Linked DNA regions of Homo sapiens: region 2 is linked to region 1. The links come from fine-mapping of genetic effects on gene expression. Tissue or cell type: nucleus accumbens. Region 1 holds a variant in brackets; the other region holds the start of a gene. All regions are shown on one strand. Distances are from middle to middle.

Region 1 (5,144 bases):
TACTCGGGAGGCTGAGGCAGGAGGATGGCCTGAACCCGGGAGGCAGAGCTTGCAGTGAGCCAAGATTGCGCCACTGCACTCCAGCCTGGGCGACAGAGGGAGACTCTGTCTCAAAAAAAAAAAAAAAAAAATTGTATCTGATGGGCTACATAAAATATCTCATAGTAATTTAGTTTCTTTCTTTCCTTCCTTCCTTCCTTCCTTCCTTCTTTCTTTTTTGAGACAGGGTTTCTCTCTGTTGCCCAGGCTGGAGTGCAGCAGTCCAATCAGAGCTCACTGCAACCTCTGCCTCCCGGGCTCAAGCGATCCTCTCACCTCAGCCTCCCGAGTAGGTGGGACCACGGGAACACGCCACCACAGCTACTTTTTTATTTTTTTTGTAGAGACAGGCTGACCAGTTTCTTTGTACTTATTTTTATGTGGCTGATAGAAAATTGAAATTCTCACCTGTGGCTTCCACTGTGTTTCTATTGGACTAAAGAACCTGTCACATTTTGTCAGCTCCCAACCACCCCCTACCACTGTCCTTATAAAAGAAATAAAAATAAAACAGCGGCTGCCTCTTACCTGTGGCACTAGTGACAATCTCCACAGAGCTATTTACTCCGTCTTTCTCCACCCACACAGAACACGTATACAATGACCCGGGTCCAAGGCCATCCACGGTGACTCTGGTGTCTGTTGTGTTTCGAGTCTCTGTTCTGCCACCATCTCCAGTGCACTGAACGCAGTAGGTCGAGTTCTGTGGGTCTGTGCCATCGGGGACCTCCCAGCTCAGGGAGATGGAGCTGGTGGTCTGAGCCTCCACTCTCAGGTTCCTCACTGGGTTGTGAGCTGAGAAATTAGGAAGAAAGATCTAATATGAGCAGGACTACAGAACATAACGGGGGCAGCCAGTGAGCTTTTTGTTTGTTTGTTTTTTCGAGACAGAGTCTCTGTCTGTCATCCAGGCTGGAGTGCAGTGGCACGATCTCGGCTCACCACAGCCTCCGCCGTCCGGGTTCAAGCGATTCTCCTGCCTCAGCCTCCCGAGTAGGTGGGACTACAGGTCTGCACCACCACACCCGGCTTATTTTTATATTTTTTCACCATGCTGGCCAGGCTGGTCTCGAACTCCTGACCTCAGGTGATCCTCCCACCTCGGCCTCCCAAAGTGCTGGGACTACAGGCGTGAGGCAACATGCCTGGCCAAGTGGGCATTTTTGATCATCAGAGTTCCTAGTTGTCCCTCAACAGCTGGTGCCAGTAGATGCAGAGTTTATGGTCTAGACCAGGGCTTCTCATTCTTTGCTGTGTGCACATCTCACAGGGGACCTTGTGAAATGCAGGTTCTCACTCAGCAGGGCTAGGATGGAGCTGAGAGACTGCACTCCCCCCCACCCTTTTTCTCCCCCACCAGTGTCACTTGCCAATGTATTTCCATCAGCTCTCAGAGACCCGGATGCTGCCCACACATGGACCACACTTTGAGTAACAAAGACCTGAGCCAGCGCTTTCCAACTGAGCTTCTGCAACGATGGAAATGCTCTCCCACCTTCCAGTATGGTAGGAGAACAGAGAAGGAAATGGAAGCCCTTCAACAGGGCTTTCAAACATATGAAATGTGAAACTGAATTTGCAGTTTCATGCAACTTTAACGAGCTTAAATTTAATAGCCATGTGTGGCTGGTGGCTACCATATCGGACAATGGAGATCTAGCCAGAGGGAGCTCTCCACATCAGGATCATGGAGCTGATGATCTGAGTTTCCATCCTCAATATGTGACGCAGCTGGGGACTAGAAGAAGAGTCAGAGGGTCAGAGTGTCCCCACTCACAGTATCTAATTCCTTGAAAGCTCAGGTAACATGCCTTGGCCCCTACACATTCCTCTTGGTGCAGGAAGGTACATTCTAGAGAGTCCTAGACACAGACCGGCCCCAGCTTAGCAGCTGGAGGTACCATGGACATTCATTCCTTCTTCATCTCCTGAGCTGAGACTGCCCCAGGATGTGGACATGAGTACCTGGCTCAATGTGGCCCAGAGGGACTATGGAATAGAAATCCGCTACGTTCTCCTGCCTACTGCCCCTTAAACAAGTAAGAGCAAAACAAATGGCGACTGCCTCTCACCTGTGGTGGCATTTCGAGTCTCCCGGGAGCTGTTGATTCCATTCTTTCCCACCCACATGGAAAACGCATACAAACACCCGGGTTCAAGTCCATCCACGGTGATGTTAGTGTGTGCTGTGCTTCGAGTCCCTGCTCTGCCACCATCTCCAGTGTACTCAACCCCGTAGGTGGAGTTCTGTGGGTCTGGGCCGTCGGGGACCTCCCAGGTCAGGGCGATGGAGCTGTTGGTCTGAGCCTCCACTCTCAGGTTCCTCACTGGGTTGGGAGCTGAAAACCAGCACAGGAGGGAAAATCAGTTGTAGTTTCTGGCCCTCAAACTTTCCAGCCCTTCCTTAACCGTTGCATCCAGCAGGTAGAGGCAGGGAGGCCCAGCTCTGCACTGTCCAGTGTGGCAGCCACGAGTTCCACGTGAGTGTTGAGCACCGTGAGGTGGCTTTTGTGAAATGAGATGAGCCGTTAGTGGAAGATCCACACCGGCTTTCGAAGAGTTCGTATGAAATTAAGAATGTCAACTGTCTCATTGATCCTTTATATATATTTGTGTGTGTGTGAGTATATACTTGGTGTATATATTGAATGATCGTTTTTATATTGATTACAAGTCAAAATGAAAATACCTTGTATCTGCCAGGTGCAGTGGCTCACACCTGTAATCCCCGCACTTTGGGAGGCCGAGGCAGGCGGATCACCTGAGGTCAGGAGTTCGAGACCAGCCTGGCCAACATGG[C/T]GAAACCCAGTCTCTACTAAAAATACAAAAGTTAGTTGGGCATGGTGGCACATGCCTGTAGTCTCTGCTACTCGGGAGGCTGAGGCAGGAGAATCACTTGAACCCAGGAGGCAAAGGTTGCAGTGAACCAAGATCATGCCACTGCACTCCAACCTGGGCGACAGAGCAAGACTCTGCCTCAAAAAAAAAAAAAATTGTATCTGATGGACTACATAAAATCTCTCATAGTAATTTAGTTTGTTTTTCTTTTCTTTTGTTTTCTTTTGTTTTCTTTTCTTTTTTTTTTTTTGAGACAGGGTTTCTCTCTGTTGCCCAGGCTGGAGTGCAGCGGTCCAATCAGAGCTCACTGCAACCTCTGCCTCCCGGGCTCAAGCGATCCTCTCACCTCAGCCTCCCGAGTAGATGGGACCACGGGAACACGCCACCACAGCTACTTTTTAATTTTTTTGTAGAGACAGGCTGACCAGTTTCTTTTTACTTATTTTTATGTGGCTGATAGAAAATTGAAATTCTCACGTGTGGCTTCCACTGTGTTTCTATCCAACTAAAGAACCTGTCGCATTTTGTCAGCTCTCAACCACCCCCTACCACTGTCCTTATAAAAGAAATAAAAATAAAGCAGTGGCTGCCTCTTACCTGTGGCAGTAGTGACAGTCCCCACAGAGCTATTTACTCCGTCTTTCTCCACCCACACAGAACACGTATACAATGACCCGGGTCCAAGGCCATCCACGGTGACGTTGGTGGCTGTTGTGTTTCGAGTCTCTGTTGTGCCGCCGTCTCCAGTACACTGAACCCAGTAGTTGGAGTTCTGTGAGTCTAGGCCATCGGGGACCTCCCAGCTCAGGGAGATGGAGCTGGTGGTCTGAGTCTCCACTGTCAGGTTCCTCCCTGGGTTGGGGGCTGAGAATTGGGAAGGAAGGTCTGACAAAAAGGGAACCAGGTCAGTACAATCCCTCCCAACCCCTGAGCTCACGCCCCAAGTCCAGAAACAACGGCGCTCATAAACCCCTACCATGGACCACTGGACCCCACGGGGACCCCCCAGAGGCTCACGGCAGTTGCGGTCCCACCTCTTCGAGTGGGCAGTGAGTTCAGGCAGGGGTCACTCACCAGGCGCCCTGGCCCCTGTCCAGCTGCACAGGCCCTGGAGGGAACCCAGAGAAAACGGAGTCAGCCTCTCAACCACTCCTCCGCCCAGTGAGGCCGAGGGGCTGGGAGGAGCGGCTGGTCCCCGCCCCATGAGTCACCCTTGCATGGGAAGGAGGGGCCGGTGTTAGGCTGGGCTGTCACGACCTCGACCGTCTTTCCTGGGTCGAGGAGAGAAGGGGGAGCATGGCAGGAGCAGAGCTTAGGGAGCTGGGGTTGGCTCCACCCGATAAGGCTGAGAGATAAAATTAATGATTTCATTTCCTGAAATATATGTCCTTGGAAAACCGAGGGCAGAGAGCAATGAACAGACTGGGAAGGGAGAAAAAAACCAAGGTTGGGGATCAGGAACCTTGGCCTGAGGGTGGAGGGCCTGGGGGCCTGGGGGCCTGGGTCTGAGGGAGGAGGGGCTGGGGGTCTCGACCTCTGGTTTGAGGGAGGAGAGGTTGGGGGCCTGGACTCCTGAGTCTGAGGGAGGAGGGGCTGGGGTCTGGACTCCTGGGTCTGAGGGAGGAGGGGCTGGGGGTCTCGACCTCTGGTTTGAGGGAGGAGAGGTTGGGGGCCTGGACTCCTGAGTCTGAGGGAGGAGGGGCTGGGGGTCTGGATTCCTGGGTCTGAGGGAGGAGGGGCTGGGGGTCTCGACCTCTGGTTTGAGGGAGGAGAGGTTGGGGGCCTGGACTCCTGAGTCTGAGGGAGGAGGGGCTGGGGTCTGGACTCCTGGGTCTGAGGGAGTAGGGGCTGGGGGTCTGGATTCCTGGGTCTGAGGGAGGAGGGGCTGGGGGTCTGGACTCCTGGGTCTGAGGGAGGAGGGGCTGGGGGTCTCGACCTCTGGTTTGAGGGAGGAGAGGTTGGGGGCCTGGACTCCTGAGTCTGAGGGAGGAGGGGCTGGGGTCTGGACTCCTGGGTCTGAGGGAGGAGGGCCTGGGGGCCTGGGGGCCTGGGTCTGAGGGAGGAGGGGCTGGGGGTCTCGACCTCTGGTTTGAGGGAGGAGAGGTTGGGGGCCTGGACTCCTGAGTCTGAGGGAGGAGGGGCTGGGGTCTGGACTCCTGGGTCTGAGGGAGGAGGGGCTGGGGGTCTGGATTCCTGGGTCTGAGGGAGGAGGGGCTGGGGGTCTGGACTCCTGGGTCTGAGGGAGGAGGGGCTGGGGGTCTCGACCT
Region 2 (5,144 bases), 180 kb after region 1:
CCATCTACCTATCTATCCAGAGAGCGCACAGAGGCTGGGCAAACTCTGACTGTCCTATGGATAGTCCTATGGACCAGCCGAGGCCCCTGCCCCAAGGAGTTCCCAGGTGTAACCGCAAGTTAAGGTGCCCTGGGGAGGTGACACAGGCACCCTCATTTCTTTTGTTCAGTAGGAGTCTCTGAGGCCTCCCCAGTACCATGCTGCATGGGTGAGGCCGAGGACACAGAGAAGTATCAGGAAAAGCTCTTGCCCCTTTATCAGGCAGGGCTCCCTCTCCAACCATATCCATTCATGGTTCATTGCCCAATTCACCACCTACCCATATCTACCCATTAAACAACCCATCCATCCGTCAATCCAACCACATCCCTGCATCAACCAACCCATGTATTCACCCATCCACCCACCCACCCATCTGTCCATTCACCCGTCCATCCACCCATCCATCTACCCATCCACCTATCCAACCACCCACCCATCTATGCATTCACCCATCCATCCATCAAACAACTCATCCATCCACGCACCCATCGATCTACCCATCCACCCACCCACCCATCTATCAATCTATCATCCATTCACCCATGCATCCATCAACCAACTCATCCATCCATCCACCCATCCATCTACCCATCCACCCATCCAGCCATCCGTTCTTCCATCCATCCTTCCACTTCCCTACCCAACCATCAACCTTTCCTGATTTCACACTTTTTGCTGGGCAATGCTAGGAACAAGGACGCTAGGGACCTAGGTCTTACCCTCAAGGCACTCCCTGTCAGGTGGGAGAGACAGTAACAACATAGACACAGCACATGGCCATATAAGCAGCAAGAGGGGTCGCTCAGACAATATGAAGACCCAGAGAAGACCCAGAGAAATTAAGTTAAATCTTAAACATGTGAGAAGTTTTCTGGGTGGAGTGGAGACAGCCAAGGGCACTCCTGGTGTAGAGAAGAGCAGGAACAGGGACCAACTGGCTATCTGTGGACTAAGAGACACCATTAGTGCAGAGAGGCAGGAGAAATGGGGCCAAAATATGGGGGGTCCACAGGCCAGTGAGTGCTTCAGTTTAACCAAAGGTGAAGAGGGAGCCACAGCAGGTCTTTGAGCAGAGGCAGGCTAGCTGGAAAGGTGTGTTTAGGAAAGAGATAGAAGGTAGAGGGGAAAGGGGAGTGAATGTGTGGTGGCTTCATTTCTCCTGCTGTTGGTCCTTCTTACTCCTCCTTTTCTAGGCCTACAGGTCAGGAAAATCCCAGCTCCTCCTTTCCTAGGCCTACAGGTCAGGAGAATCCCAGCTCCTCTTTTCCTAGGCCTACAGGTCAGGAGAATCCCAGCTCCTCCACCTACGTGTTGTGTGGCCTTGGGCAAATGTGGCGCCTTTCTGCGCTTCAGTTTCCTCCACTGCAGAATGGGGATGGTAATAGTAGTGACCTTGGAGACCAGTTACATGGAGAGGATTAAATGGGGCCTGGTCTGGGCTCAGTGGCTCACGCCTGTAATCCCAGCACTTTGGGAGGCTGAGGAGAGCAAATCGCATGAGCTCAGGAGGTGGGGACCAACCTGGCCCACATGGCAAAACCCCGTCTCTACTAAATATACAAAAATTAGCCCGGCAAGGTGGGGCGCACATGTATTCTCAGCTACTTGGGAGGCTCAGGTGGGAGGACTGCTTGAGCCTAGGAGGTCGAGGCTGCTGTGAGCTGAGATCACGCCACTGCACTCCAGCCTGGGTGACAGTGAGAGATCCTGTCTCAAAACAACCCCAAACGACAACAAAACAAAACAAAACAAAAAATGGGGCCTGGTGTACCTGGAAGCTGGGGCTCTCCCCGTGCGGGGGGCCTAACTGTGTGACTCGACCCCCACACTTCCCATCTCCAGGGGCAGGGTCTCACAGCCTCCCCCACGTATGCACCTGTGCTTGCTGTGTCTGCGGTTCTCCGCCAGAGCCTTCCCGTCCCTGTCTCCACCCCGCCCTGGGACTCTACCTCCCCATGGCCGCTCTCTGTCTCCATCTGTCCATCGCTCCCCCGTCTGTCTCCATTCCCGTCCCTCCCTCGGTCCCTCCGTCTCCCCGCCCTGCCCCGCCCGCCCCTCACCTGGGCCTCACTCGCTGCCCGCGCCCGCCGCCCCGGGCCCGGCCTCGAGCGTGGCGAGCTGCAGGCGCACGCGGCGGGAGCCGGCGGCGGGCGGCGGGGGCGCGCGGGCGGCTCGGCGCGCTCTCCGGGAGCCGGGCGCGGGGCGCTGGCCCGCGGCGGCGGGCGCCGACCAGCGGCGGGAGAGCTTGCGCGCCAGGCGGGCGAGCGCCGAGGGCCGCAGGCCGTAGTCGCGCTCCAGCTCCTGGCGCGAGATCTCGATGTTGCCGGTGTACCAGAGGATCCAGCCCAGCAGGCTCAGGAACACCAGCAGCGCGCCCGAGTAGATGAGCAGGTCCCCGAAGTCGCGGCCGCGCACCTGCAGCTGCGCGAACACGCCGGTCAGCAGCGCCGCCATGCCCGCCACATCCAGCGCCACGGCCAGCAGCAGCGCCATCCGGCAGCGGCCCAGGCCGGCCGCGGGTGCTGGCGCGGCCGCCGGCGCGGACGGTGCACCCGGCGGGCTCCCCTGCGAGGCGCACACCGCTGGCGCCGCCGCCATGGCCCTGCACCGCCGCCGCTGGCGCCCAGAGAGAGCGTTCCGGGGTGCGGCCCGGTCCGGGGCGGGGTCAGGGGACGGCGCCAGGTGTGCCAAGCTCCCGCCTGGTCACCTGAACCGGGCTGGGCGCGAACCGGCGCGGCCGGGGTTACCCTGGTCGTGGTTTCCGTGCAGGGGCTATTGCTCAGAGGCCTGAGCTGGTGGTAGCCAGGCGCACAGCCACGGGTGCCTAGGGCCCGTGCCACCCAGGGAGGTCACATATGGCCAAAAATCAGGGCATTTTAGTGGTGGCAGCATGGGACACTCGGAGCCGGGCGTGGCGTTGTTTCTGCTCAGTGTCCGCCTCCCGAAGCCTGTGCAGATCAGACAGTGCAGATCAGACAAGGCCTTTAGACACCAAGGAGCTCTGGGACGCGAGAACCAGTAGTCGGGGTGATCTAAGAGGGGAAGCTCCGGGTTCCGCGGAAGCTGAGTTTCCTTCACTCAGCGCGTGTCTTCTGGGGTCTCCTGTGTTCAGCGAATGAAGCCACGGGCACAAGGACGGACGAGACCCATCAGGTCCAGAGCGCACCCGTGGAGGAAGCTGGGCGAACCCCGACTGTCCTATGGAGGATAGTCCTATGGACCAGACGAAGCCCCTGCCCCAAGGAGTGCCCGGGTGTAACCGCAAGTTAAGGAGCCCTGGGGAGGTGACACAGGCACCCTCATTCCTTTTGTTCAGTAGGAGTCTCTGAGGCCTCCCCAGCACCATGCCGCGTGGGTGAGGCCGAGGACACAGAGAAATATCAGGCAAGGCTCCTGCCCCCTTAGGGTGGCCCTGACAACGGATCATAACCTCCCAGGGAGCTGATGGGGTGTGACAGGCACACCATAGGCTGGAGGCACAGGTGGAGGGCAGGGAAGAGGACCGGCAAATCTATAGAATCCTAAAGGGAGCCAAGAGAAGCCACATGCAAATCTCCCTCCCTCCAAACAATTCTCCCTTAGAGGGCATCCGCGCTCCCCTGGGGTGGCAGTCAGCGAGAAGTTTCCGTGTAGGTTCTCCCCAGGCTTAAACAGTTTAAGAGTTTTATTTCAAGAAAACCCTGGGGAGGGCGAACTGCAAGAGGGCTGCCAGGATTAGCCGAGGGATTCCGAATGAAGACGGAGTATTTCCGAACATACACACCTCTCCCAAGAGCGTTTCCGGAGGGTTCCGAAAATACCCGAGCGGGCCTCGGCGCCCTCATTGGCCATCACCGCGAGGGCTTACGAAGACCGGAAATATCCAAAGGTGCCGGGGCTAGGCTTATATAGTTCACGCATTCACCAGTTCATTCATAAAACAAATGTTTGTTGAGCGCCCATCATATGCCAATCACAGTGACAAGTGCTGGGTGAGCAATACTGGAGAGATAACGCTGAGGTATGGGTCCCAGGACCTCTCGAATTGGAGCCACTCGGAAATCCAGCGGTAGAGTTTCGAAAACTTCCGAACGGTTCCCGGAATACGCTCTCGGCCCTCTAACCGAAGAGTTCCGAATATTCCCGAGCGTTGAGCGAATTTTCGGCGGAAGCAGCCGAACATCATCGAGCCGCCTCGGAGGTGGGGACCGACAACTCCTGTCGTGCCCGCCCGGAGAGGAAGCGGAAATGCGTGTACGGTATTAAAGGCGTCGCCTCGCCCCTCGCCTTCCTCTTTCCGTCTCAGGTCGCCGCTGCGAAGGGAGGTGAGCGTTCGTCTTCCTCGCGTGGTCGCCATCTCCGGCCCGCCGCGCACTCCCTCTCAGTCCTCTGCCTGCCTTCTCCCCTTGCGCCTCAAGGGTCATTGGCGGACCCCAACCCCTCCCCGTGAAGTCGTTGTGAATTTTCAAGTTATTTTCCCCTCACTCTCATTCGCCGCAGCTAGTCTCGGCTGCCTGAATTCGGTCCCGCCGCCTTAGGTCACTCAGTCCCGCCTGACAAGAGTTCTAGGTCGCTGTCTGCCCTCAGGGGTCTCCCATTCACCCAAGTTCCCAGTCGCTCTCTTCCTCTGCTGTCCGAGCGTGGCCCGTGGCCTAACGCTGCTTTAGTTCTCTGTGTCTGACGCTTTCCCTGTGCCCGTTTCCCCGCAGCCGCCGCCATGTCTGCGCATCTGCAATGGATGGTCGTGCGGAACTGCTCCAGTTTCCTGATCAAGAGGAATAAGCAGACCTACAGCACTGTAAGTGGGGCCCGGATGCGTGGCTCCTGCGGGAGGAGGGTCCTGAGTCTCTTGACTCTGGGTCAGAGGGCGGGACCTTCGCATGTCTCCGGGTCCCTTATTCACGATGCCTTGTGCCGCCTCCTTCCCAGGAGCCCAATAACTTGAAGGCCCGCAATTCCTTCCGCTACAACGGACTGATTCACCGCAAGACTGTGGGCGTGGAGCCGGCAGCCGACGGCAAAGGTGTCGTGGTGGTCATTAAGCGGAGATCCGGTGAGTTTTGTCTGGTTTGGGCCAGAGAGCGGCCCCTTTCCCGGGTCTGGGAGCTGTGATTTTTTACTGT

What was found. PIP is the estimated chance that this variant, and not a neighbour inherited with it, causes the effect.
Region 2: it holds the start of TMEM238, and the variant in region 1 is fine-mapped to the expression of TMEM238 in nucleus accumbens (GTEx, PIP above 0.99).

Annotation. Positions count from the first base shown.
Region 1 is chr19:55,203,215-55,208,358 of GRCh38, forward strand. It overlaps PTPRH (protein tyrosine phosphatase receptor type H), which reads right to left. Exons shown (of 20, transcript NM_002842.5): 2 at 3,952-3,985; 3 at 3,475-3,741; 4 at 2,112-2,378; 5 at 568-834. Among named protein-coding and RNA genes, the nearest start is that of PTPRH, 3.7 kb to the right of the region's middle. The variant C/T (reference allele first, on the strand shown) is at 2,839.
Region 2 is chr19:55,381,620-55,386,763 of GRCh38, forward strand. It overlaps TMEM238 (transmembrane protein 238), which reads right to left and starts at 2,673. Exons shown (of 2, transcript NM_001190764.2): 1 at 2,103-2,673. The coding sequence starts at 2,640. The coding sequence ends at 2,110. It overlaps RPL28 (ribosomal protein L28), which reads left to right and starts at 4,313. Exons shown (of 5, transcript NM_000991.5): 1 at 4,313-4,346; 2 at 4,731-4,819; 3 at 4,951-5,074. The coding sequence starts at 4,739. RefSeq lists silencers at 2,179-2,268, 2,559-2,898 and enhancers at 2,273-3,235, 3,189-3,258, 3,289-3,358.